2 separate regions of the Homo sapiens genome follow, and region 2 is linked to region 1. Evidence: fine-mapped expression QTL. A gene starts in region 1. The other region holds a variant in brackets. All regions are shown on one strand. Distances are between the middles of the regions.

Region 1 (2,844 bases):
CTGTGCCGTGGGCTGGCTGGTGTACCCAGGAGACCTCAGCTCACACCCTCCTGGGAAGGACTGCCGGCCACTTCATAGGTGGAGCACAGAGGTGCTGGCTCCACCCCCTGTGTGTGCGTGGCACTCTGTAGTCACCAGCCTGGCTGTCTGCCTCCTTGTTCCAGGCATGGTCTCAATGGCCTCAGACCCTCCCTCCTGAGCCTGATTAAGAAGCAAAGCACCCTGCAGTAGGGGACACTCTTCTTAGGAGGAGGCGGCAATTCTCACTAATAAGTGCTTTTCTTCTACCACATCATGTACATTAAGTGGTTTTTTTTTTTTGTTTTGCTTTTTTGTTTTTTTGTTTTGTTTTTGTTTTTGTTTTTTTGGATACAGAGTCTTGCTCTGTTGCCCAGGCTGGAGTGCAGCGGTGCAATCTTTGCTCACTGGACCCTCCGTCTCCCGGGTTCAAGCGATTCTCCTGCCTCAGCCTCCTGAGTAGCTGGAACTACAGGTGTGCGCCACCACACCCAGCTAATTTTTGTATATTTAGTAGAGACAGGCAGGGTTTCACCATGTTGGCCAGGCTGGTCTCGAACTCCTGACCTCAAGTGATCTGCCTGCCTCGCCCTCCTAAGTGTATATTTTTCTTTTCTTTTTTTTTTTTTTGAGACGGAGTCTCGCTCTGTCACTAGGCTGGAGTGCAGTGGTGCCATCTCAGCTCACTGCAACCTCTGCCTCCCGGGTTCAAGCGATTCTCCTTTCTCAGCCTCATGAGTAGCTGGGATTACACACGTGCGCCACCAAACCCAGCTAATTTTTGTATTTTTAGTAGAGACGGGGTTTCACCATGTTGCCCAGGATGGTCTAGATCTCTTGACCTTGTGATCCACCCACCTCGGCCTCCCAAAGTGCTGGGATTACAGGCATGAGCCACCGCGCCTGGCCGTGTATATTTTTCTAAATAGACACCTGACCATGCTTAGGTCATCCATCGAAATTCCCTAGCACTTGCTGGCTTCCCTGAATTCAACTGAATTGCGCGTGCCCACTGCTGCTGCATAACCTATGGCGGGCACAGCCATGGGATAAAGTGGGCAGTGTGCACACATTCCCCGCACAGTCTGTGGCCTGGCCAAGCCCCTGGGCATTCGAGGCTCCCGGCAAGGCTTCGTGTCCCGACAGTTTTGGGTAGGGGCACGAGGTGGGTGAGCCCGGATCCCAGCAGCAGGCATGGCTCCCTGGGTTTTCATGTCATCTGTGCCCCCTTCTACCAGGATCCTGCAGCAGCTGAAGGGAGACCCCTCTCCTTTTAAGGGTTAAACCCCCAGTGGCACAGAGCAACTTACCTGCCCTTGCATGGTGAACACTCCCATCTTTATCACATCAGTAATTCTTGCTAAAAGCAGATGTAATTTTGAAGGTGGGTAAAAGTAACTTGAAAAGTTGGTGGGCAGATGGCAGAGAGCCTGCTCATCCTTCTTTCAAACTGTCATCAGCTGCACAGGTCTCAGCTGCCATCTCATACTATTATTATTGCTATTTTGCATGTGTGCACACCTCTTTCTGTGGGTGTGGAGGGAGGGGACTGAGCAAAGCCTCAGGGAGGCCACATACGTTCTCAGCGCCATGCTTGGCTGGTGACTGGTCATGCACCATTGGCAGGGCCTGGAGCACGTGCAAGGAACAGAGTTCCCGGCTCTGCACACTCAACATGTGTGTTTCATACTGTCACCTGGCTGGCTCCTCTTTCTGGGTCTGTGTGAGCAGAACAGAACACACACTGGGGACAGAGCTTGCCCGAGGGGCTGCCCAGGTTATTTCCATCTTGGTGATGATGACACCACCCTGAGCTCATTTCTTCTTCACAGCAATCCCAGGAGATGGGAACCACTGTTATCCCCATTTTCTTGATAGGTAGACTGAGATGTGAGTGAGGGGAACAGATGGGACAAAGCTAGGACCCAAGGACAGGTGAAGGCAAGGAGGGACGATGCTGCTAATAATCAAGGCCATTCATTTGGTCCCACCCAGAAGCCTGGGCAAGTGGAGACAGCTGGCACTACAGAGGCCATGGGGCAGGGGCAGTGGAGGCCAAACCAGGGGGCTTGATCAGCACTCTGTCTGGGAAGCCATTGAGATCCCAGGTTCCTTCCACAGCATGCCTCAGACAAGCCTGGAAGTTTGTTCTTTGGGGAAATTGTAGAAAGGAGGCTCTAGGCTCAGGGGCTGAAGGACAGCAGAAGGCAGGGGTGGGGTTCTGGACTAAAAAGGGGTCGAGGTATAAGAAGAAAGACTTCACCTACACTGAGGAGATCCCCAAGACCCCCTCCCGACTCTACTCCCAGGAAGTTGGCAGCATGACCTACAAGTACCAGGCAGGACATATGTTCCTAGAGAGGAGACCTAAACATGTTTGCAGGTAAGGGTTGCCCAACAAAGAATCTGCTATAGCCACCAGTCTATAACCATCCCCTGCCAGCAAGAAGTCTTCAGTGAGCTCTTCAGGGCTGTGCCCTTGGAGATGAACCAACTGCCCACGGTCACTGAACACAGGAGTGAAGCAGCCAACATGGAGCACAACCAGCAACACATAGGGAAGAGGCACTCAGAGGAAGCAGAGGGAAGGGGCAGAGCAAAGCTCAACATGAAGCCCCTGTCAGTCACATTCTTGGGAGCTGATAGAGGAGATTGCATCCAGGAAACAAGAATGGCATTCTAGGCTGGGTGTGGTGGCTCACACCTGTAATCCCAACACTTTGGGAGGCTGAGGCGGGCAGATCACCAGAGGTCAGGAGTTCGAGACCAGCCTGGCCAACATGGTGAAACCCTGTCTCTACTTAAAATACAAAAATTAGCTGGGCA
Region 2 (2,866 bases), 22 kb after region 1:
GGTCTTGAGACGTGGGCTTCTCTCCATTCTGTTTTAGAAACAAAAAAAGCAAAAATGCATGATTTCAAGGCGGAGAGGAAGTCTTTGGCTGTTCCATGTTCTTTTCCCTTGTCTCAGGCATGCAGCCTTGCCTGGGAAGGGGCCTGCAGACCTTGGAGGACTTGCTCAGCGCAATGGACAAGCAGCCCTTCTGTCAAACACTCCCCATAGGAAGGTAAAATCAGGTCCCGTGGGTTACCAGAGGGTCGAGCCTCTCCAGTGGGGACTTGCCCAAGTCGCTGTGCGTGCAACTGCACATCCTTGCAGGCAGTTTCTTGCATATTTCCAGTTTCCAGCAGCACCCTGCATTACAGAGCCTGCTTCAGAGTAAGCCCCTAGACCCAGAGCTGGCTCCCAGAGGAACAGGATCGCTAGAACTTATTAGAGCCCCTAATAGAACATCCTGCCACTGACATGCTACTCGCCTTCCAGAAAAACTTGAAGATCCTCAGAGATAGGTGCCCAGAAATCATGGGTTAAAACTGATTTTGGACTTCACAAAAGTTTGATTCTGAGCCTGGAGCACCCAGTCCTGAGCTGAGCATTCTCCTCAAAGCTGGGACTCCAGTCTCCATGTGCCCCATGTGCACTCCGAAAGGTGGCTTCCAGAGTGTTCCAAGCCACCAGGGTTTGAGCAGGGCCATATGACCACATTTGTTTGCATGTATCTCCAAACAGTGAGAGATCATAGTGAAGGGTGCCTTTGGCTTCAGTCTGGGGATAATGCTTTTAGTCCTAGGAGCAGCTGAATTCTTCCCCCAGATCCAAAATTTTGGTCATGTTCCCAGAAGGCAGCCCAGCTGGGGAAAATGATGAAGGCGGAGGCTGGCTTCCTGTGGGGTCACAAGAACCTGCAGGTGATGGGGCGAAGGTCTCCTCCAGCATGTTCTTCCACTGGTCGCGTTACATGCAAAATGCCTTCTCAACACCCCTTGTCTTCTCCAGCAAATAGATGTCTCTGGGCTGGCTCAGTTTAGACTCACTCAAGACCAATTCTCTACACATACTTGCCTCAAGTTATTTCTCCACAAACCTGGCATGTAGGTAATGATACAGATGAGGAAACTGAGGCTCAGAGACTTGAAGTGGTGGGGGCAGGGATTTGATTCCAAAGCTCACGCCCTTGACTCAATTGCTATCTGCCTCCCTGCTGTGTTGAACAACTGGCCCTGTGACAGATATAGTAGCATCATCTCCAGACTGCACGAGAGAGACTGAGCCCGGGGAGTTAGCTAATCAATTAGGATCACAGAGCTTATTAGTGATGGATCAGGACCCACCAGCTGTTAGCTGGCCCCGTGTTTGGTCCCCCATCCCCATTGTGATGGTTTTAAAATAGTCCACAAATGCTTTGCTATTCTTCCCATCAAATCTCCTCTCCATGAGTGTGGGCTGTACTTAGTGACTCACTTCTAATGAATAGTATGTAGAGAAATGATAGTGTGGAAAAAATAGTTACTTAC[G/A]TTTAGGGGTTGTTCTCTCGCACAGCGTGTGTCTATCTGCAAATAACTCACAGCTCCTGGAGGACAGTAATCTTGTCATAGTCATTTCTTTTATTCCCAGTACCTTGCGCTCTGCCTAGCATATAATAGCTGCTTGATAATTATTTTAATACACAAATGAATGAAAGAAATCATGCAAAATGTTGTCATTGTCATTTCTCCAAAGATATTTATGGGTTCAGATACATCAGCGACTTAGAAATGTTGTTAAAGCTTAGATTTCACCAAGAGAAATCATTAGCAACTCTCTACCATGGTAGGGTCAAAGCTGGGGGCTTACAAAATACAATGTTCAATGTGAATCCTCTAGCTTTTCCACCTAAATCTGTGAAGAGTCCAGATGCTAACTTAAGCCAGAATTATTTTCTTCTTTTTCAGGAAAATCAAAAAATTTTTAGACTCACAAGTACTATGAACTCAGAGTAAGAGATAACTTTCCTATGAAGAGCTATTCCAAAATTTTTATTTTTCTTTTTTTCCTTTTTTTTTTTTTTACACTGAGTTTTACTCTTGTTGCCCAGGCTGGAGTGCAATGGTGCAATGTCGGCTCACTGAAACCTCCACCTCCCAGGTTCAAGCGATTCTCGTGCCTCAGTCTCCCAAGTAGCTGGGATTATAGGCATGTACCACCACACCTGGTTAATTTTTGTATTTTTAGTAGAGACAGGGTTTTGCCATGTTAGCCAGGCTGGCCTCGAATTCCTGACAGGTGATCTGCCTGCCTCAACCTCCCAAAGTGCTGGAATTACAGGTGTGAGCCACAACACCCAGGCTTTTTTTTTGCGGGGGGTGATGGGGGGTCTCACTATGTTGCCCAGGATGGTCTTAAACTTCTGGCTTTAAGCTATCCACCTCAGCCTTCCAAAGTGCTGGGATTACAGGCATGAGCCACTGCACTTATCCTCCAATGTTTTAATAAATAATAAAGCATTTAGGCCGGATGCAGTGTCTCATGCCTGTAATCCCAGCACTTTGGGAGGCCAAGGTGAGCAGATCATGAGGTCAGGAGTTCAAAACCAGCCTGGCCAGCATGGTGAAACCTTGTCTCTACTAAAAATACAAAAATTAGCCAGTCATGGTGGCTCGCTTCTATAGTCCCAGCTACTCAGGAGGCTGAGGCAGGAGAATCACTTGAACCTGGGAGACAGAGGTTGCAGTGAGCCAAGATCACGGCACTGCACTCCAGCCTGGGCGACACAGCAAGACTCTGTCTCAAAAAATAAATAAATAAATAAATAAAGCATTTAATAAAATGCTATTTTGCAGGGGGATTTCTTTTGTCATTTGCCAATGAGTGTTATATATTAAATATTTTAAGCAAACAT

Evidence for each region.
Region 2: its variant is fine-mapped to the expression of LINC03034 in lung (TOPMed, PIP 0.97).

What each region holds. Positions count from the first base shown.
Region 1 is chr15:31,229,379-31,232,222 of GRCh38, forward strand. LINC03034 (long intergenic non-protein coding RNA 3034) reads right to left here and starts at 1,484. Exons shown (of 4, transcript NR_171016.1): 1 at 1,329-1,484.
Region 2 is chr15:31,251,116-31,253,981 of GRCh38, forward strand. No RefSeq gene overlaps it. Among named protein-coding and RNA genes, the nearest start is that of LINC03034, 22 kb to the left of the region's middle. The variant G/A (reference allele first, on the strand shown) is at 1,503.